Homo sapiens: one gene and its partners. The protein of the gene in region 3 purifies or fractionates together with the protein of the main gene of each other region. This does not show direct contact. Each region holds a gene or a part of one and is shown on either strand. Other genes may lie near its edges.

Region 1 (2,778 bases), on a different chromosome or scaffold from region 3:
ACTTGTGTTGCTCAAGGGTCAACTGTATATGTAGGAAGGAGCAGTACCATTGTGGAAATGATGGGAAGATAAAAGAAAATACAATTGTCACAGAGAGGACAAAGAACATGAGAAAGGAGAACAAACTCAGATTTGACCAAAAGACAATGGCTTGTATTACACTGGTAGAAGCAGCAGCCTCAGAAATTACAGGGTATTTAGGGAAAGTGGCTATTAAAGAAGCAGGTATAAGGGACTCCAAGTCTGGGAATGAAAGAGGGCAAGATTGTAGTAATAAGTGAAGGATCAGTGAAGATTTTAAAAAAAAGGAACTGAGCCATAAATTTTCTTCTTTTTTCAATTTAAAAAAAAGCTTTAAAAAAAGTTACTTATACATAAATACAAAACATATAATACACACACATATTGTTACACACTTTGTTGTTACCATTCTTAAGTACAAATTTTAGTTATTCTTAGTATCTATAGATATATGTCCTAAAGCATGATTCAGTAGCAGCTTTTCCTATCCTTTAAACGTTTTCATACTCTAAGGAGCAAGATTCTCAAAGGTATCTTTATCAATCTCCTTTGGAAAAAAAAAACCCACACACACACACACACACACACACACACACACACACACACAAAAACACATATACACATAAATAACCTCTTTAAAGGCATCACCTTAAATAGATAAAACTCCTTAGTGACTGCTGGAACTTTCCAAGCCATACATTATTTGTTTAGTAAGTCACTATCATGATGAAAAGAAATTCAGTGTTATGAAGTCTATTAAACAGCCTTAAGCTTTCATTTATTCCCTTTGATGAAGCTGATTTGAGAGAAGGACCATTTATATGTTATGAAAATAACAGACACTCCTTTGGATTTCACAGATTATAATTAAGAGAACGCTATTAACTACAGAATACTGATTGCAAAGTATTTCATTTTTAAAGATACTCCTTGAGCCAGAGAAGGGTTGAAATGTTTTCTTGAAGGAAGAGTAGAACCATGATAAAGACTATAATCCCAAGAAGGAAACAAAGTACTTCAAAGTTAGAAAACATGATGTAAGAAAACATTGGAAAGTGGGATCATTCATCTGGGACATATCATTAGAGAAAGATAAAATTGAGAGGTGTTCTTTGCCTTAATTGTGCACGAGTAATAAACTAATCGTGTCTGTACATTTCCCAACAGAATTTGGGCCACCAAATATTTTCACGTACATTATCCCATTGATTCTCACAACAACACTGTCAAATAGTAAAGGGATTCTTCTTTTCTTCTCCATGAAGAAACTAGACTGAGAAAGGTTACGTAACTAGCTCAAGATCATAAAGCAAAGCTGAGTTTGAGACCCAGGTGGGTTCCCAAAACTAGGACTGGAGCTCTTTCAACCAAATAATGCTCAATAGGAAAAGGAGTCAAGGACAAGCTCCAACTGGTAAAACAATCTGGATGAGTTAAGAGTTCAAAAGTTGAGAAACAATGTTGTTAAAGGAAACTAAACAGGTTTCTTGGATAAAATGCTAAGTTATAAGAAGCTCTGGCTAAAGAGCAAGAAGATGGATCAGCTGACTTCTCAGACCACTACTATTGTTACTTTTCTAGAATATTTTTATTTACTCTCCTCTTAAAGTCTCCTTTATTTCCTCCTCCTGATATGATTTTTTTTTTAATGACAACTCCAAAAGAAAGGATGAATAAAAAAAAAATTTGGCAACTCTTGGAACCTAAATATAAACCCTGTTGGCATGTTTACACTTCTTTTTGGATATCAGCTGTATAATCCTTTAGCCAGATTCAGTCTCATTCCTAACACAGTTAAGTGTGCTTTGTAAGGGTTTTCTTTGTTAACTTGCCTCACACATATAAAAAAGAAAAACAAATACACAGTCACATTTCCCAACACCTTTCCCCCACCAAAAACACAGTATAGGGTAGCCAGGTACTTTGAAAAAGTATCATTTTAAAACATAACTATTATTGTAAAAATAAAAAATAAACATGACAAATCAGTCACAAGGCAGGGAGGCAGGAAGTCATACTACAACAAAAAGTCTATGGATGAAGTATCTGCTTAATACTCACACACAGAAAACACTCTCAGAAAATGTTTCTTTAATTTAGTTTAACTAAAATTTCATCAAGGTAGAATGCAGTTTTGTAAAAAGTTCCAAGGATCCTATTACACAGTTGCTAATTAACCTTCAGTTCCTTATTTATACATTTTTTACTTACAGATATAAAAGGAAAAAAAATCCTAGAAATTATTTTAAACAGAACATTATACAATTAATTAAAAGTAGGAATTAGAGTGGAACAATGTGGCTTTAGATACTGATAATTAATAGACAGGATGAATCACAAAATATATTAAGTATTATCATTTTCCAGTCTCTGCATCTCATCTTGTCCCATCTGTCCAAGGTGAGACAAAAGTTTGCTATAGGCTTCCCTGTTTAAGAAAAAAGAAAAGAAAGCAAATATATTAACATTTTCATTATTTTTCATTTCAGTATTTACAAATTAAGTCTGCCCATCATCCATCCATCCATCTATTCAGCCATCCATCCAGCAGGCTTAGCACAACACTTCTTAAAAAGTAATGCTTTATATCTATTGTGAGTAAACCTAGATGTTAAGATGTATTAAAGTATGATTTTTATATATAAAATGTGTGCTAAAAATGACATGTAAAAGTTCATTAACCTTCCGAAATATTATAATGCTCACGGGTAATAAAATGCATTCATGGAATATTATTTAAGGACAATGATGGTATGA
Region 2 (2,735 bases), on a different chromosome or scaffold from region 3:
ATGTTTTGTTCACATCAATATAAACAGCAGTTGCTTATGAAACTACACCAACTCTGAAGGGCAAGAAAGAAAAGCTTATTTTTTGGTCATTAAACTAGAGTGAGCTTTTAAGCTCCATCTAGACTTTTCTTTTTTGACAGAAATCTCTAGTTCTTCAGTTTATCACTGAATCAAAAGGTGCTAAAATGTTATACAAAAAAGTTTCAGAATATACTCACTTCTCCAAAAGAGTAAGGGCTGTGTTTGGATTCACCCGAAGGTACTTAGAAGCTGGCTGCCCATAATCAGCTAGGTAAGTAGACCAATCCCAAACCATAAACAGGTCAAGGAGCTGCGAAAGATGGGGGAAATGTTAAATCAACTTTTGATTATTTACCCAGTTAATACTTAAATTATATGCTATCCTTGGTCCATTTTAATATGGCTTGCTTCTTAGATGGAACAGAATACGGAAATTCATTTTTAAAACTTCATTAACTGTACTTTACAATCAAAATAGATCTTTTTACTTTGAAATTACTAAAAATGCCAGGGGTTGTTTTCTAGTAAAATACTTCATGTTTTCAAATAATTGTAAAATAATGAAAACAATGTTAATATAATATATATTAACCCTTGTACTGATGTATAGAAATTTTATCTTTATGCATTAGTCAGTACCCAGATTTAATTAATAAAGGTTGGTGCTACTAACCTGTATGAAGAATTTTAAAGAACTTAAATTGAACCTTTTTTTCTTAGAGGTAAGTATGTTTACCTTTCAAGGACGCTGTTTGCACCTAAGACTTTTTCCAAAGTAATTTAAACCAAAAGCTCAGATAATCTCAATTAAGTGCATTAAACAACCTCTGCTAGATTCTCTCTGGTGATAGATCCTCTGTAGTATTATGAAATGAGGGCTTCAGGATTCAGCCTGTTAACTCTAGGCTACCATTTTGTATAAACAAACAACAACAAAAAAGAAACCCTCTTGTTTCCCGTGGTGTCTTAAAATTGACTATTTACTTTATAATCTCCAGTTAGAATCATTGTCAAATATGGAAGTAATCTTTTAAAAGCAATGCCATGCCTAAACCTAAGCACCAAACTCTTTATCCAACTTTAAAACCCTAATCCCCTTTAAGCCATTTAAAACCAACTTCCTATCCCCATTTGAATTGTTTCAGAAAGCTAAATGCTTTACTTACTACCTTCCTTTAGTTTTTATATTCTTTCTTTTTGTTTTAACTCACTTTATAAGTAAGGGGTCTTACTGGTTTTGCTTTCAAATGGAGGAAACATTTGCATTTACTCATGGGATACAAGAGCCGACCACTGACTCTGAGAGGGATAAAACTCTGGGGTGATTAAAACCTCATAAAGAAAGGTCACCAGAAACTAGCTTTTCTTGATGAAGGTAAAGAACTTGCTTGACTATTTCCCCATCCAATTTACAGGTATTAATAGAGATTTTCTTGCAACAGGCAGAAAATTCTATAATGAAAATATTAACTATGGAAAGCCACTCTATTTTCTTTCGGACAAGATACCATTCTGGGCCATACCAACAGTTGAAACACTAGGATAGAAACTATACTGAGACAATGTTAAAGAATATACTGTCTGAAAAAGAAAAGGGAACTTATTTAAAGTTCTGTGTAATTTTTAACTGTTGTTTGGCCACATTTTTCCCTCCTTTCACAAAGAGGAAAAGTTACTTTCATACACTCAGATGGTAAGAGTGTAAATTAGTATAACGTCTCCGGAATGTGATTCTGCAATGTGTTTAAGAACCTTATAAAAGTGGCCATTCCCTTTGATTCAGCAATCCTACTTCTTGGAATGCAACTTCGAGAAACAGAAAAAAATTTATGCACAAAGATATTAATCTCAAAAATGTTATTTGTGTTATCAAAAACTGAAAATAGCCTAAATCTCAATATTAAGAGACTGGTTAAGTAGTGAGGTCTATCTGTATGATGACTATCATGTGGTTATTAAAATTAATGTTTACAAAGAATTTTAAATAACTTGGGATAATGTTTATGATAAATGTTGCTACTTAAGTTACATAAAAACCCATCCAAAAAGACTGGAAGAAAATTTGCAAAAACGTTAAGGATGCCGGTTATAAGCTGGGCATGGTGGTGTGTTCCTGTAGTCCCAGCTACTCTGGAGACTGAGGCGGGAGGATCACTTGAGCCCAGGAGTTAAGAGTCCACCCTGGGCAACATAATGAGACTTCACCTCTAAAATAGTAATTTTTAAAAAAGAATGATTGTCATTTATGTGGTGGGATTAAGGTTAACTGTTATTTTCTTTATTTTTGTAATACTCTACAATGGATATGTGTTAATACTATAGTTATAAATAAGGTTTATATATTTATATATTAAAATAAATTTCAATAATGAACACCCCTCACAGAGTTGTCAACAGAAGCCTCATTTTCAAGGATTCTTCTTTCAGGTATATGTGTGTATTTGCACAACTGTGCATGTGCAATGCACAGTGTCAGCAGAAAGCAACCTCTTAAGGCTCTTTTTCTCTAGGCTGATTTACCCCCAAGTGGGAAAGGAGGAGCCGACTTAATGAATGAAAAACCCGCACCAACTCCAACTGTGAATACAGAATTGATTCTTTTACAGCACAAGACCAGACTGTCCTGGATAAAGAAACACTATGCTTACAATGTTCACATATGGTCAGATACTCATATGCAAATCTCTTATGTGCAAATCCGCAGAAATTACAGG
Region 3 (2,971 bases):
GATTAAAGAAACACGTAGGAATTAAAACAAGATGTGGGAATTAATTAGATACATGCGATAAAGAGACTTGTAAAGGGTGATTCCAAAATGTAAGGCTTTTGGGAAATAGGTACATAGTAGTGTCATGATTGAGACAGAGAATACGGGAAGACAACGTGGAGGGGAGATGGGATGAGGTGTGCATTGAAATGGCAGGTTCTGTTTGAGATTTGATTTGCTGGTGAGACACCCATGTGGACATGGTCTATTGGCCGGTAGAGATACAGAATTGAAGTTAAGAAGAAAGGTCTTGTCTGAAAAATGAAGATCCACGTATCCTCATATTATGTATTGTAATTGCAGTCGTAAGAGTGGATCCATTGACTCAGGTTCAGGTACAGAATGGAAAGAGAGCTGGACTAACTGTGGAACAGCAGCCCTTATTTTTCTTTTTTAGTTGCATTAGTCTTACTGCCTTGTCTTAGACAAGCACTCTGATATAAAATTCCACACAATTTCTCTCATTTTCCCAACTTTTTAATTGCAACATAAAGCCTCTACATAAAAGGTATTTTATTAATGAATTGACATAATGAATTGGATAAGATATATGTTAATTGAATCATTAATTGGATTCTAATAATTTACTAATACAACATGTAACACAGTAGCATATACATTTCTTACAGTGTAATAATTCACCAAGAGGGAGGGTAAATCTTTAACCACAGTTTTCTATTAGCATCTTAAGCAAAGTGACTGCTACTTAAAAGACAAAAAGGTTATTTTTGAACAATTTGCCTAGTCTAACAGAAAAATGAATCATTTGATTATATATTACAGATATACATTACTTTTTGTTCGCTTCTTAAAGTCTTACACCTAATCTAACATATTGTTTTCATTCTTTTTCAGTATTCCAGAAGTGCAGTGCACTTAAAAACCAGTCCTTTATATCTATCATGGAAGGAATTTAATAGGAGCTATAATATGAATTTTAAATATATCCACAAAGTAAAGCTCTCCAGTTCATAAAATTAATGTTGTAACTATATATCATATGCATGTTGAAGTTTTTTGCTTTAAAAATATATTCACAAATTCTGTCATATTTACAAAAATATGACTAATGAAACTTTAATAGCATCTAAAGACGTATGACTATTTTAACATCTCAGTTGTTATTTTTTATGAACATAGAAGGTTTTTAAGCATCTTTGGTTGGGTACTATTGAAATAACAATTTTATTCATAATATAATTAAATAAAAAATACTGTAGCATCTATGTTCTACAATTTATAGAAACAATTTTTATGTATATATTCATATTATATAAAAATATAGCTAATTATTTTGAAAAGAAGACAAATAACTTATGTGAAACTGGTTTGAAATACAACATTTGCAAGATGAAATGAATCCAGTGTTTTTAGTACCTCTTACAGATAGGTCCATTTTAATGTAATTACATTGTTTTATTTAGTATGAATGGGTCCGTGGAGGATGAATTTCAAAGAAAATAACACTGCAGTGTTCTTTAAATACATGAGAGCTATGTACCTGTGCAAAAATAGCTTGTAAATACTGTGAAATGTTACAACATGCCACAAAAATTATTCTCTAGTCTGATTTAAATTTTAGTGTAGACAAACTTAGCTCCAATAGGAATAACAACAGAAATCATACATGTTCAAAAAGGTATAACAATAAAAGTATCAAGTTGTATTCTTGTTATCTAAATAGTATCTCCATAAAGCGGATGTAACTTGAAATTAGAAATTAAATGATGGTTTGCATTTCCTGTAATTCTGAGAATTTCAGCTTTTGATTCAGAGTTGAAGAAACTTTCACCAAACGTGCAATTGGTTTTAAGAACAATTGGCCCACTGAGTGTTGAGGAGTTCCCCTATCATCTGCCAAAATATTAATTATATAGCAAATTTCAGTTTATCTCCTCGAAGCCATTCGTATAGTTGGCAATCGTTTCCTGCAGCATTCCCTGATGGATTTTGTCTAGAGAATGAACAAAAAAATCAAAATGCGATGAAGGAGAGCCTGTGGCTCCCTGGAGAAATTTCTGTTCAGTGGTGTTTTCATAAGCCAAGCAGGGAGCAGCGAACTGCACACCTCCTCAATCCAGGTCCTAACGTGATTTGAAAGTCAACTTATTTTCCCACCGTCTCTCAGCAATGCTTTGATAATACCAATTTCTTGTTCAAGTTTTCTTCACTCCAGGAAAATAATCAAAAGTACTTCTCTCTGCTTTTACTCATAATGCAACCTACTACCCAACCAACTGTTAAGTAAACCATTTTGTTGCCTTATCTTTGAATTCCAGTATTTTCACACAGGCTCTGCCCAGCCAGTTTTCCAGGAATTAAACAGCAGATGCTTCCATTTAGATCCACTTCTTCTTTAAAATGGGAAATCAGTTTTCACTTGTGAGCCGCCATCAACCAGATTCATAGCTCTGGTCAGAATTCATCCATACATTTTCACACCACAGCTTCCTTAGACATTGGTAGCCTCTGTGAAAGAGTCATTGGGGCCACTGTTCTTTCTGACCTCCAGGTTCTTTTTAGCCTTGAATGTCACGGACACCTCAGAGTGAATGGCATCCAACCGCTGCTCACAGCGGAAGGCCGAGAGGAAAGCCTTTCTGTAGTTGCTGTTCATCCAGCCATAGAGAAGGGGATTGGCAAAAGTGGAGCACATGGCGATGATGTGGAACACTGTGAAGATGAGTTTGTACTCCTTCAGGTCCAGGACCTGGCTGTCAATGTCAACGGCAAGCTGGAAGGCATGGAGAGGCAGCCAGCTGACCGCAAACACCACCACCACACACACCAGCATTTTGGTGGTTTTTTGCCTTCGCTGATGGTAGTGGTCATTTGCAGCTCCAGGACTGACATGGTTCTTCAATTTACTCCAAATGCGAGTGTAGGAAAATGATATAATGCCCAGAGGCAAAACATACAAGATCAACAAGGA
Region 4 (3,500 bases), on a different chromosome or scaffold from region 3:
AGTAGCTGGGACAAGAAAAGCATGCCACTGTGCCTGGCTAATTTTTGTATTTTTTTTGTAGAGACAGGATCTCCCTATGTTGCCCAGGTTGGTCTTGAACTCCTGGGCTCAAGTGCTCCTCCTGCCTTGGCCTCTCATAGGCATAAGCCACCGTGCCCAGCCCAATTTCACTTTAGACTCCACTGGTGCCAGCATGGGAGGTCTGCAGGACATAGAAGATTCTATTAGGATTAAATATTTAGAACAGATGTGTGATGGAGTGCTTGTTACTTTTGTATAATTTCTATTATGTTCGAATTCCACTTTTGTCTATAAGTGATCACATTCTCAAATAGCTTCAGTGGAATATTTACTTTTGAATAAGTAAGTTCATATAAACCATCCAGAAGGAATAAGGCTATACCAGTTCAATCAGTCCCAACATCAAAGACTTTTACCCTTTCACTAGAATACTTTTTGGAGAAATGTTTGTAGAATAAATAAGCATATACAATAAGCATATATATGAGTGAATATATGAAACAAAAATTATACCCAGGCCCCCAAATGTTAAGATTTTCCTACAAGAAACCCAAATGATAAGACTAATAATCTCTGAATCTATATTTTTAACAGTTTGCTATTTCCTATCATAAAGACACAAAAACCAAGGGAAGTAGTACAATGGATATCTATGAACCCAATTCCCAGTTTAAAATAGTTAACATTCTATCATGCTTGTTTGACTTCCCACACCCATACATTGAAAAAACTACCAAATCATCACATCCATGAAATTGACAGCAGTTCTTTAATATCATTCATTACTCAGTTCAATTCTCCACATCTCTTCATTATTCTTAAGATGTACTACAATGACTGGGTCATTTAATTAAGAATACTTAGTTCTTACCTGTTTACATGTTTTCCTTTCTATGGAAAAGTTGGAATGTGTGATTTACTATTTTACAACTCAAAAGATTATTTTAAAAATGTTATAGCCACTCTAAGTTTTCCTGTCAGCTCTGACTCCTGTTTCCCATTCAGAAGCAACCACACATCATTTTTCTAGTCATCCTTCTAGAAATACACACCTTTTGATTAAACTCTCAGAAAGTTTAAACAGCCTAAATATCTGACTTCTAGCTCTATCTGACATTTCAGATTGGGAAAAAGTACTAACTTTTATGGTGTGATTTCTTTTGCCCCTTCATAGCCCTTTAATGATATATTGCTCTGTACTTATTCTAAGAAAATATCAATTACTATAAGCTATGTTAAAGAGCTGGTTTATGGAACTAGCAAATAAATAGTTAATAAAAAAATATTCAACTCAAATATACTGAAATGTTCTACATAAAGTTTTGAGTTAAAATCCTAAACAATGAAAAAAAACCTGTATACCTGAATAATCTTTTGCTCTTTCTAGTGACCATTTCCTACAAATAACACACAGTTGCATATATTTTACAGTTTCAATCTTATATTTATTCTCTTGTGGAATGCTAGGTTTAATGTTACAGTATGGTTGTCAAAGCTAATGAAATGTGACAAATGTCTAAATGCTGCAGAACAGTATAATTTTAATTAAACAAAACACCTGTTATTGTACAGCTGAGGTCTGATGGTTGTTAAACTGATGCCTATGTGTATGGCCAGCCACAAACCTTGGGGATGTTTATTACCTGTACATATATATACAAATATATCCCATACATATGTATGCACACAGGCATGTATTAATTTATGCGTGAAACTTATAAAATTATATATACAAACACATACATGCACATCTATCTACATATACCTACCCTCACCATTGAGTAATCAGCCTCATGCCCAATTATTATTGCTGCCCAGTATAACTACATGATTTTAGTGCCAATACCAGGCACCTTTTTGGGTGCAGGATAGGTACATCTATGCATATAGATATGCATATTCATGTATGTTTGTGTATATAAAGAAATTCTCTCTCCCTTTTATGCTTCAGCCATGCATTACTACAATAAACAGTCTTTCCACTGTAGGTGTTGGAATTCTAAACAGTGTAAAATCTATTTCTGGAAAACTGTGTATGTTCATAGTTACAAAAAATATATTATATATATGATTGAAACCTATTGAGTACATATGTTATTTGAATCTGGCTATATCGTAGCCATTAGATAAATTAAAAAAAACCACCCTCTAAATAGGATGTTATGGTAGCCTTAAATATACCATTACCTGTATTTAGAATAGTTGATATTATATCTTAAAAGTTGAAAAAATGATGTTAAAGATTTGAAAAACACTATGCATCTGCATTAAATATATAAATGTTTCCACCAAGGGCCCGATTAAATTCATTGTCTGACATTTTCATGTTCTAAGACTGACCAATATCATAGTCATTATTCTTATATTCTTAAAATTATGGCTCATTAAGGCTTTTATAGAAAAAAAGCCCTATTTTAAATCAATTATAAAAACAAGTTCTATTTAAAAGAAAAAACATATACAAACACTAAAGTACTCATGGATATCATCCTGTACAAAGTGACTAAAGATAGGAGGCCTGTTCCCATTAAGAACACCTCCTGGTAGCACAAATAAACCTGGTTTGGTTCCTCTGCTCTGCAGCTTTTCAGCATGTAAAATTTAAACCATTTCACATTAACATTTAAATTTAATACAGTGCAAATATTTGAGAATAACTTGTTTCCCCCAGTGAAACAAGAGCCAGCATTATGCTGAATATTCTCCAGATCTATTTACACATTGAGTTAAAAGTTCACCATAAACTTAGAAATTTGCTGAATATCAGCAGAAATGTAACTGAACTAGCAGCAATTGCATTTACAATATTTGATAGTTACTTGAGAGAATGCATAAAATTTTCCAGGCTGTACTCTGAATCATACTGCTCTTGATCCCAAAGATCACTCAGGTTTTCAAGAATTGATTTCATACTTGCTTTCCCAGAAGTAGAGGTGTCAGCTTTTTCTGCTTTGCCATCCTTAAGAAAAATTGGCAAAAAAAAAAAAAATAAAATGAGAGGTTAACTTCACAAATTGTATTTTCCTTTAAAATCACACTTGTTTCTAATACAATTATTCAACAGAATTGAGTACTTCAAGTGATGGGGAAATTCATGATCTCCAAATACATTTATTTGTCAGTTTTTTATTTGGAAAGAACTTCAAAATTATGGAAGAATTATAAGAACATAACAAAGAACTTATTTGCTTTATCATTCTCTCTCCCCATTTATATATGTGTATGTATATATGGATGTCAGAAATATAGTTAGATATCAGTTTTTTCTCTGAACAATTTGAAAGAAAGTTGTAGACATCATGTCCTTTTATCCTTTGAGAGGAATCAGCATGTATTCCTAAGAACAAGAATATTCTCTTACATAACCATATAAAGATCAGATTAAGGAAATCTAACACTGATATTAAAATGTTCTAATATACAGTCTGTTTTCAAATTCTGCCAATTGTCTAAATAGTGCCTTTTATGGCAATAGGCCA
Region 5 (3,500 bases), on a different chromosome or scaffold from region 3:
AAGGCTCACACCTGTAACCCCACTTTGGGAGGCCGAGGTGGGCGGATTGCTTGAGCCCAGGAGTTCGAGACCAGCCTGAGCAACATGGTGAAACATGTAGAAACCCAGTCTCTACAAAAAAATTAAAAAAAAAAAAATTAGCCAGCGTGGTGGTGCACGCCTGTAATCCCAGCTACTTGGGAAGCTGAAGTGGGAGAATTGCTTGAGCCTGGGCTGTTGGGGCTACAGTAAGCTGAGATTGTGCCACTGCACTCCAGCCTGGGTACACAGTGAGACCCTGTCTCAAAAAAAAAACCAAAAAACAAAACCAAATATCTCAATGATTTCTCAGTTTTAATTTCTAACACAATAATATTGATTGTTATAACCACATAAGCAAGACTCTGGGGTTGGTGAAAATTTTTAGGAGTGTGAATGGGTCCTATGAGTATAGTTTGAACAGAGGCCATTAACTACAAAAAAAATACATTATTAACAAACTTCATTATTATATACTATCATCTAACCTGACATCATCACACTACCTCTGGGTTGGCCACTGTCCTTTCCAGGAAAACTCTATAAAAAGGTAAATACCTCCAGGAAGCTATATATTATATAGGATATTAATTATATCCTACAATTAATGTCTTACAGATGATCATTTATTAGGGTTTTTTTAAAATGATGGGCTGTGATATTATGATGCAAAGTATATATCTGGTCCTCATCCTAGGCTCCTGACACAGAGCTCCTGGTAAAATTCTTGTAATTTCCTGAATGATAGGAATGTCTTTTGTTATAATAGTGTCTTAGTCCCTGGTTCCTGATACAAGAGCATCCAAGACCCTTGGAATCTCCAGAGTGCTAACAGTGTCTTTTTGTATACTGGTGGTCCCTATCTTTTAGTGCATTAATTGCATCTTCAGCTGTATCTAATATGTTCAGAAATCTGTGCTTGAATCTGAACATATCACTAAGCTTCAACAATTAACAAATTCATAGCTATGCATTAAATATTCTTTTTTTTTTTTTTTTTGAGACAGAGTTTCACTCTTGTTGCCCAGGCTGGAGTGCAATGGCGTAATCTCAGCTCACTGCAACCTCCGCCTCCCGGGTTCAAGTGATTCTCCTGCCTCAGCCTCCTGAGTAGCTGGGATTACAGGCATGCGCCACTACGCCCGGCTGATTTTGAGTTTTTAGTAGAGACACGGTTTCTCCATGTTGGTCAGGCTAGCCTCAAACTCCCAACCTCAGGTGATCCGCCCACCTTGGCCTCCCAGAGTGCTAGGATTACAGGCGTAAGCCACCGAGCATTAAATATTCTAATAGTAAATTTTTAATCGATCAAAGCAAAGCATGCACATAGTTTAAAAAATCACATAGTATAAATGACAAAATATAGCAGTTTTTGCCCCACTCCTCTCTATTTTATCCAATCTTCCTTCAGAGAGGCAATTAAATTCTTCTAGTTGTTTGTTTTGGAATTTATACATCTCCATATAATAATATACTGATATCTTATTAATCATTTTTAGACATTATTTACATTCTCTTATGGGGAATGAGAATTCAGCTCTCTTATACCACATTCCCTCTTTTTTTGTGGTTATTGTTTTGAGACAGGGTCTCACTCTATTGCCCTGGCTGGAGTGCAGTGGCACAATCTCAGCTCACTGCAACCTCCACCTCTGGGTGGAGGTCAATTAATCCTCTCACCTCAGCCTCCCAGGTAGCTGGGACCACAGACGTGAGCCACCACACCCAGCTAATTTTTGTATTTTTTGTAGAGACAGGGTTTTGCCATGTTGCCCAGGCTGGTCTTGAATCCCTCTCTTTATTCTCTCCATCCTTCTAATAGTTAAGATTTTTGCTTAAATCAATATTCAGTGTTCCCATGATTATCATGTATTAACTTTTATTTTTAATTTTTGTTTTTTTTTTTAGTAGAGATGCGGTTTCACTGTGTTGGTCAAGCTGGTCTCAAACCCCTGGCCTCGAGTGATCTACCCGTCTCAGACTCCCGAAGTGCTGGGATTACAGGAGTGAGTCAATGAGCCTGGCCAATCGTGCAGTAACTTTTAAATTGTAGTCATTTTATTTCTAGATTTCTTTTTTTTTTGAGACAGGGTCTCATTCTGTCGCCCAGGCTGGAGTGCAGTGGTGCAATCGTGGCTCACTGCAACCTTGGCTTCCCAGACTCAAGTGATTCTCCAGCCTCAGACTCCTGAGTAGCTGAGACTACAGGTATGAGCCAGCACAGTGCTGGCATCTGCTTCTGGTGAGGGCCTCAGGTGGCTTATGATCATGGTGGAAGGTGAAAGGGGAACAGGTATGTCACATGGTAAGAGAGGGAGTAAGAGAGAGAGGCGTGGGTACCAGGCTCTTTTAAATAACCAGCTCTCCCATGAACTAACAGTGAGAACTCACTCATCACCAAGGGGATGGCACCAAGCCATTTATGAGGGATCTGCCCCCATGACCCAAACACCTCCCACTAGGCCTCACCTCCAACACTGGGGGTCACATTTCAACATGAGATTTGGAGGGGTCAAACATCCAAACTGAGATTTGGAGGGGTCAAACATCCAAACTGTATCAGTCACATAAACGATTTTTAGCCTAAGTTCTTGGGGATTTGGGGGTTCCTCTTTTTTGTGAACAATTCTGAACTGACACCTGGATTTCTTTCTTTTTCTCTTTTTCTTTCTCTCTCTCTCTCTCTCTCTTTCTTTTTAACTTATTTATTTTTAGAGATGAGGTCTCACTACATTGCCCAGGCTGGTCTCAAACTCCTGGCCTCAAGTGTTTTGCCTGCCTCAGCCTCTCAAAGTGCTATGATTACAGGCGTGAGCCACCACGCCCAGCCTGGCACCTGGATTTCTTAAGAATGCATCATCATCTACATTTCAGGCTACTTACTAAAAAAAAAAGATGGTTTATTCATTCTGGGCTATATCTCTCCTGTAAATATCTAAAGTATACTTTTTAATTTGGTCAACACAATCCACATATGAAGTTGGGCTTACAGATAGAGTAAGAATGAAACACTGGGTAAATCTGGTCAAGACTTGGTCCCCCCAGCGTGTGCAATCTTATGGGAATAATAGATAAGAACATACATAAATACAGAAGCATATTTTCATGCCTTTTAAGCATAAAACAATGATGTTTGGGTTGGTATACCAACCAAATCACCAAATGTGACTGACTGTTTCTAAAATGTTGATTCATCCTAGCAGGGTGAAAACTAGTGGTGGGGGTAAAAAAGACAATGCTAGTCCAAAATCAGTTTCCAGAGGGGTCCCGACGTGGCTGAGTCACAGCAGCACCACTGAAATCAATGTATAGCCTCTCCTGATTTAGAACACTGCATTATAGAACAGAAAGATTATTTTAAAGCCAGACACGGTGGCTCACACCTGCAATCCCAGCACTTTAGGAGGTGGGAGAATGGCTTGAGCTCAGGAGATTGAGGCTGCAGTGAGCTGTGATCATCCCACAGCACTCCAGCCTGGGAA
Region 6 (3,500 bases), on a different chromosome or scaffold from region 3:
TTGCATTTCTGCATTTTACAAAATGTAATCATCTCTTCCATCAGCGTGGGAAACCCTGCTCTCCCTCCCACTAGGTTGGCTGTCCAGGTGATGCTCACCCACCAGACATTCCTGACCCCGCTCATCCCCCACAGCCAATCGGTCACCAAGTGCCTCCATTCTGAGCTGAAATGGGCTTTGCAGACTGAGTAGGAGCGGGCCCAAGAGGAGGGCACTGTGGGTGGGGTGGCTGAGAGTGCCAGGCCCCTGCCCCCACCTCTCCTCACCATCCTGACAGCAGCTTGGCGTGGATGCTTTCTGGCCGCAGAACCCCTCCCGGGCATTGCAGGCGTGCTGTCCCTCCACTTTCCCTCCTCCCCTCCCCGCTGCTGGCCAGCCTCAATGGCTCTCCCCCCGGGTGGCAATACCAGTGTCTCCCACTGGCCCAGTCCTTGCTCAGGGGTCAGATGATCTTTCTAGAACACAAGTCCCTCTCCTGCCTAAAACCATCCCCTGCCCCTTTGCTGCTTATGGACAGAATCTGGTGCCTCCTTGGCCTCCTTGCCACCCACCCGGTGCGGCTCCAGACCTCCACGTGCCCTAGATCTGGAACAGCCCCTCCCCACCTCTGACGTCTGAGCTGCTGTGCTGCTTCCCCAGCGTCTCACACCGAGGCTCCCCACCCAGGACTCCTGCACTTTTCCATAGCTCTGTGGAGCGGCCGGCTCATTACCACTTTTAACAGGTTTTTTTTTTTTTTGAAGTGGAGTCTCGCCCTGTTGCCCAGGCTGTAGTGCAGTGGCACGGTCTCGGCTCACCGTAACCTCCGCCTCCCAGTTTCAAACAGTTCTCCTGCCTCAGCCTCCCGAGTAGTTGGGATTACAGACGCCTGCCACCGCACGCAGCTAATTTTTGTATTTTTAGTAGAGATGGGGTTTCACCGTGTTGGCCAGGCTCTCAAACTCTTAACCTTGTGATCCGCCCGCCTTGGCCTCCCGAAGTGCTGGGATTACAGGCGTGAGCCACCATGACCCGCTCTTAACGGTTCTTTAGTTCAAGACAAGGGCTTCTGTGTGTCTTTTCGTCGTGGCATATTCCCAGGATTGGACTTAGCCAGCAATTTACCCATGGCTGGTTTTGAGGATCCAAGGGACCAAAAGAAGCCATAGTATGTGTGGGCAGGTGTAGGCGTGAGCGGAAAGAGGGCACAGGGTACCGGGAGGGTGGAGAGGCTGTGCACGGAGGGGCACGCCGGGCGTGTGGTGGACCTGGGGGAAATGTCTGCAACATGCTGCTTTGTAAAGGTCTCTGGGACAGCAAAGTAAAAATGGCCATGAGGTGGTTAGAAATTGAAGAGTCCACCTGGCCAGCCCTCTAGGGCATTCCCTGGGGAATGTGGACAGTGGCCTGTGTGCCTGCCCCTTCTTTCCCGCTTGGCCCCCATGCTATTTGGAACCAGATGTCAGACACCTATTAACCCCCTGAAATGAGCCATCTATTATCTAGAGAGCCGTTTCACCCTTGTGGCCTGAATTTCCTAATCTCCAAAATAAGCATAATAAGGTCTGCGTGACGAGGTTAAAACCTGTACGTGCCCTGCTGTGAAGCAATCTGAGAAACCATTTCACACGGAGGTGTGGCCCACTGCCGGACACGCCACATCTGTGTGCATGTGCCGGTGCACGCTTGCTGCTTAAAACAAATCAATCTCCATTTGGTAGAATTTAGAGTAGCTTCGAGGACAGTGTGTTGAGTTGGGTGATGATGGGGGCTTCCCCTAAACCCACCTGAAAGTCTGAGGCACACTGTGAGCGGGAACGAAGCCATCACCTGCCCCGGAAGGCCCCTTCCGCTTGGAGCAGCACCGTCTGCCCGGAGTTCCCAGCAGTCTCCCAAAGGGCACGTCCAGGGTGGGCGAAAGGCCATGGTGCTGGGGCTGGTGTGTGCAGTGGGTGGAGGCTGGGTGGACGCGGGGCTAGGGATGGCCTGGGACTCCAGCAGGAAGGGCCGGTACCACGAGCCCAAGAAGCTGGTGCTTATCTTGTGGGTGAGTTGGGGGGGGCCCTGAAGGCTCATTTACAGCAGTCCCTTTGGGGCAGAATGGAGACAAATTTCTGGAAGATGCTGGAAACAGGGAGTGGTGATGAGGTTGAGAAGGGCTGGACCTGCGGGGAGCGTGGGCTGCCTGAGTGCCCCGTGGGGGTGGAGACCAGGAGGAGGGGGCCTGAGCAGATGCTAAGCTCCCAGCACACGGCCGCCGTGGGGCAGCCAGCTATGCCAGGCAGTTTCCCCGGCTTCCGTGGGGTCAAGGCTCTGCTTGCTGGCCGGCAGGACGAGCGGCGTTATCAGACAACCCAGCTGGCGCAGAGGTGGCCCCCCAGTGCTGCTAAATCGGGGCCACCAGCTCCTGCCGCAGGAAGAGGGAAATGCAGGCAGGATGTCCTCTCCTGTGGCCGACAAGTCCTTTCCCATGAACCCCTGCTGACCTCGCCGGCCACGTGGCGGGCCTCCCCTACTCACCACCTGGATCTACCCAGGCCTGGCCGTGGGCTAGGGTGGTGCGGGCCTCAGACAGGGCCGGGGGTGTGCCTGCTGTTACCCCGTCCAGCCCGGCCAGGGCTGGCGCCCTGCTCCTCCTCCGGGAATGAATGCCCGCATCTTCCTGCTCCCAGACCTGTCTCCTCAGTGTGACCGGAAAACCCAGATTCCAGAGGAAGCCAGTGTCTGAAAAGGATCGAAACTCAGGAATCCCTGGCTCCAGCTGGACACACTGACTGAATCTTGCTCAGAGTCTAGGGGGTGTGAGAGGCTCTCCAGACCCCTCTCCCTGCCCACCCCCAACTCCGAGGGGCATCTCAGAGGGACGTGGGGCACAGGCTAGGCCTTGGTGGAGAGAAAACTGCCCTGTGGAGGAAAATACGGCAGCAGGAGGGGAGTAAGCCAGACACAGAGAAGCACCTCCCCTTGCAGCTGATTCGCTTAATTTCCCTGGTTCCCCCATTCCCCTCTGTCCCATCATACTCAAGTGCTCCCAACTTTCCTCCCTCCTTATCTGGCCGGGTGCATCAGCTGAGGTCTCCGAGGAAATCCCATTGCCTACCTCCACCCAAGGTCCTGCTCCTCTCCCAGGGTCTCCCTTTGATAAATTATCCTTGAAGCCAGAGACCTGGGACTTCCTCTGTCCCCACCATCCCCAGCTGCTACCTGCCTCCACCCCAGTTTATCCCCTGGGTTATCCACTTGCAGTTCCTGTCTCCCCTGGACACCAGCCTCCTTGCTGCTGGCACTGCCGCATCTCCAGCCTCGTTTCCCCTACCTCCCATCCACTCCTCCCAGACTCCAGCCTCACCGGACCACCCACTTGGCCACATTCACCATCTGGACTTGCCTGTCTCTGGGGCTTCATGGGGTTCTTTGCTCTGCTTGGAATTCCCTGTCCTGGAGTTCTGCAGACCCCACCAGGAAGCCCTTAGCTGGAAGTGACACTGCCTTCCTGTGCAGCTTACAGCCACCAGCTGGGC
Region 7 (3,500 bases), on a different chromosome or scaffold from region 3:
ATTGCCAAGATGCCATTAGGGGAGACACAGAAGTGTGTTATTAGGTTAAACACCAACAGAAAAAAAAAACTGGCCTGAGGCAGTGGTAGCACATAAGTGACAGCAATTTGCCTTAGCCAAGAAACACTAAACTGATGTAACCATTAAAAAGTGCTACTTTAGTAAAGGGAAAAAAACTGAACTTAACAAAAAGCCATGAAAGGAAACAATGTAATGGGCATTCTGAGCCCATAAAAACCTTTCAGAAGGGAGCAGTTTGCACGAAAGAAATGGTTAATTGGTCTCCAAATGGATTTAGAAAATACCAGACACGCTTTGAGCTAGTTAATAGTCATCCAGGACTTCTCAGGTTCCACCTGTTTCTAAAACCACTTTCCTCAAAGAAATTTAGGACAAGGATTTAAGATCCTAGGACATGCTGTAATGATCAATCTCAGCAAGCCCTAAAAGGGACTGACATTTGCTACCCTCAGAAGGTGTCTCCACAGTGAGCACAGAACGTGGCTTATGGAATTGCATGGAAAATGTGTGCAGAGTGAATGTAAGTGGCAGGGAGGGGGCTACAGACTCTTCCCCACACTGAAGCTGGCTGCTTGAGCCATCTCCCCCTTATATGACCTTTGATACAACTTTAGCCAAATTCTGTGTCCATAAGGAAACACAATAAAAACATAAACTCCCGTGCATCACTTTACCTACCTGTCCCCATCCCCTAAGCATATGAGGCCAACTTACTGCAGACATCATTCCCTCTGAAGGCACATTGTGAGCCACAGAACTGTGCCTGACTCTCCCTAGGGTTTCTCTCTAGTGACTTCGAGGGCTGACCAGCCTTGTGTCTCAGAGTCCTGCCATTTAATTTCTCTCCAGTTGTGCTACAGAATTATATAATTAAATGAAAATCAACAGGGCAAGGAGAGAGAGAAGAGGAGGGCAACAGGGAAAGGAAACCAGTTGCATGTTACAGAAAGCATTTGTCTTTGTGACCCACAACACCAGAAAACAAAATGTTACCTGTGCTTGACAGCACTTCACATGCAGTGGTCCATGAGTATAAATTAATTTTATATTGATGGTAATAGTAATGATCAAAAAGAATTTGTCCTCAAACTATGTGGATGCCATGTGCATATCCACTGAGGTTCTGTTATAATTCAGTGTTAGTTAAATGAGTCATCAAAAGATAGTTTTATTCTGAGCTCTCATATTGCCATTAAAACGTCAGTCCCCTATAGTTGAAGATGATGAAGGACAGTGTAAAAGGAACACATTACAGAGCCATCCATTTAATTTCTGATTGGAAATGAGGCCAAAATGGCCTCCATAGCACAGTAGGGTGAATTTAGTTAACAATAATTTATTGTGTATTTCAAAATAGCTAGAAGAGATTTAGAATGTTCCCAACACACACAAAAAAATTAATCAATGGTTGAGGTGATGGATATCCCAAATGCCCTGACTTGATCATTACACATTGCATGCATGTATCAAACTATCACATGTACCTCATAAATATGTACAATTATTATGTATCAATAAAAAATGGCCTCAAAGGGGAATCAAATACTCATCTTCCTCTTTCTGAAGCATTTGTAGGGTTGCGTTTGGGATGTGTTTACACCAGGGCCTCCTTGGTCCTCATTATCTCGCCCTGACCTACTGCAAGGTTGTGTTGTTAGCTCAGTTCTAGACACATGGCATGCAGGGGATAAATGTTTACTAAGTGAGCAAATGAATGAATGGCAAGCAACAAAGATGGTCCTATTCTTTCCTCTCTCACCTCACAAAATACAGACAAAAGGGAAGAAGTGGAGACAATGGCAGGAGACTTTAAGCTTGACATTGCACTTTCTTTCTGTGGAACTGGGAGATGGCATAACAGCCACTGCAATTCATGGGTCACAGAGGCAGGGAGATATCAAGGGAAGGTCAGCACCCTCTCAAACCCACCCCACACTCCTTGAGAAGTCACCCGAGAGGCCAAGCTCTGATGACTATGTCCTGATGGAAAGCTCACATTCTTCTGTTTAGGAGACCAGAATCCAATAAGCCTTCATTTCTCAGCATCTGTCAATGAATTTCTCTGCCTCCCCACTTTCCACATTAGTAATCTAACCTCATATAATCTCTTGGACAACTCATGTGGTTGCCATTTTATCAAAGTGGAAAGATGGTTGTTGTTGTTGTTTTCCTTGGGGTTAATAAATATGTTTTCTATTTTTTCCTTTGGGATACATGTTTTCTATTTTCTTAACCCGAAGCACTTTTAAAAACAGATTTTGTTATTTTCCTACAACACTGGCCAATTGCAAAATATAGAGCAATTAAAAGCAAGAAGATAATAGTTATTGTTGTTTGTTTTTATTCCATTGTTTTACAGTACTGAACAGAAAGACTGATTGTGATTATCTAATCAGTAAACTCAAGTAAAATGTATGATCGAATACAGCTAAAAATACCCTTCTGGGGAGCAGGAATGTTAGAGTCACATTCATAAGTCTAATAAACAACTTAAACATTCCCTTTACCCCACGGGTCATACTGTCATACTGTGGGTCATACTGTGCTAAAGGATGTGTGAACAAGTGCAATCAATGTGAAAGTCAAATGTCAGAGAAAAGAAAAAGTGTGCCGGGTCAGTGAGCACAGGCTTGTGGTATGCAGGGGCCTTCTTCACTTTTGATGTTGTGGTTGATGCTTGTCTTGGTTTTGGTTTTAGTGTTTTTCCTGGAGGCCAAAACAAAAGAAAGATTTGGCCTCTCCCTGAATATGGAATAATGGGACTACAGAGCAGGAAAAGACCTAAAGGATAATTAAGAATACACCTTTCCTGGCCAGGTGCAGTGGCTCACACCTGTAATCCCAGCATTTTGGGAGGCTGAGGCGGGCGGATCACTTGAAGCCAGGGGTTCAAGACCAGCCTGGCCAACATGGTGAAACCGTGCCTCTACTAAAAATACAAAAATTACCTGGGTGTGGTGGTGCATGCCTGTAGTCCCAGCTACTCAGGAGGCTGAGGATCACTTGAACCCAGGAGGCGGAGGTTGCAGCGAGTCGGGATCACGCAACTGCACTCCAGCCTGGAAACAGAGCAAGAGTCTGTCCCAAAAAAAAAAAAACAATACACCTTTCTTTTTACCCATGTTGAATCTGAGGCCTAGGGAGTTGAGGTGACTTGACGAGCATTACATATCTGAGCAAAGCCAGCCCAGTGCCCTTTATACACTTAACCTAATGCATATGTTCTGAGAAGTCATCTAACCTAGCTATTGTTTTTAAGAATTACAAATAATATTTTAAAACTCTGGTATGTTCAAAATAAAGAGAAAGAACACAACTGAAATCCCAAAGAAAAAGACGAAATCAAATATATGTAGCATATACAGACACATACTTTATATATATATAGTAACTCTCTCTCTCTCTCTCTCTCTCTCTCTCTATATATATATATATATAAAATATTAACTGAGGTATTGATAGGAGTCAAATAGGATGTT

What was found.
Region 1: the proteins of NPY2R (region 3) and MMS22L purify together in Homo sapiens (affinity purification with mass spectrometry; 2 studies listed by BioGRID and IntAct, with this or other methods). This does not show direct contact.
Region 2: the proteins of NPY2R (region 3) and EXOC6 purify together in Homo sapiens (affinity purification with mass spectrometry; 2 studies listed by BioGRID and IntAct, with this or other methods). This does not show direct contact.
Region 4: the proteins of NPY2R (region 3) and BTAF1 purify together in Homo sapiens (affinity purification with mass spectrometry; 2 studies listed by BioGRID and IntAct, with this or other methods). This does not show direct contact.
Region 5: the proteins of NPY2R (region 3) and SLC25A17 purify together in Homo sapiens (affinity purification with mass spectrometry; 2 studies listed by BioGRID and IntAct, with this or other methods). This does not show direct contact.
Region 6: the proteins of NPY2R (region 3) and FLT4 purify together in Homo sapiens (affinity purification with mass spectrometry; 2 studies listed by BioGRID and IntAct, with this or other methods). This does not show direct contact.
Region 7: the proteins of NPY2R (region 3) and SLC35F1 purify together in Homo sapiens (affinity purification with mass spectrometry; 2 studies listed by BioGRID and IntAct, with this or other methods). This does not show direct contact.

The regions. Positions count from the first base shown.
Region 1 is NC_000006.12:97,144,439-97,147,216, forward strand, and holds part of MMS22L (protein MMS22-like), read right to left. Parts: intron 2,450-2,778; coding exon 2,368-2,449; 3' UTR 1-2,367. UniProt on the Homo sapiens protein: Component of the MMS22L-TONSL complex, a complex that promotes homologous recombination-mediated repair of double-strand breaks (DSBs) at stalled or collapsed replication forks.
Region 2 is NC_000010.11:93,054,520-93,057,254, reverse strand, and holds part of EXOC6 (exocyst complex component 6), read right to left. Parts: intron 332-2,735; coding exon 219-331; intron 1-218. UniProt on the Homo sapiens protein: Component of the exocyst complex involved in the docking of exocytic vesicles with fusion sites on the plasma membrane.
Region 3 is NC_000004.12:155,214,606-155,217,576, reverse strand, and holds the end of NPY2R (neuropeptide Y receptor type 2), read right to left. Parts: coding exon 2,492-2,971; 3' UTR 501-2,491; downstream 1-500. UniProt on the Homo sapiens protein: Receptor for neuropeptide Y and peptide YY. The rank order of affinity of this receptor for pancreatic polypeptides is PYY > NPY > PYY (3-36) > NPY (2-36) > [Ile-31, Gln-34] PP > [Leu-31, Pro-34] NPY > PP, [Pro-34] PYY and NPY free acid.
Region 4 is NC_000010.11:92,028,270-92,031,769, reverse strand, and holds the end of BTAF1 (TATA-binding protein-associated factor 172), read right to left. Parts: intron 2,981-3,500; coding exon 2,837-2,980; 3' UTR 333-2,836; downstream 1-332. UniProt on the Homo sapiens protein: Regulates transcription in association with TATA binding protein (TBP). Removes TBP from the TATA box in an ATP-dependent manner.
Region 5 is NC_000022.11:40,809,347-40,812,846, forward strand, and holds part of SLC25A17 (peroxisomal membrane protein PMP34), read right to left. Parts: intron 1-3,500.
Region 6 is NC_000005.10:180,643,101-180,646,600, forward strand, and holds part of FLT4 (vascular endothelial growth factor receptor 3 isoform 1 precursor), read right to left. Parts: intron 2,680-3,500; exon of another isoform or gene 2,056-2,679; coding exon of another isoform or gene 1,767-2,055; intron 1-1,766. UniProt on the Homo sapiens protein: Tyrosine-protein kinase that acts as a cell-surface receptor for VEGFC and VEGFD, and plays an essential role in adult lymphangiogenesis and in the development of the vascular network and the cardiovascular system during embryonic development.
Region 7 is NC_000006.12:118,277,764-118,281,263, forward strand, and holds part of SLC35F1 (solute carrier family 35 member F1), read left to right. Parts: intron 1-3,500. UniProt on the Homo sapiens protein: Putative solute transporter.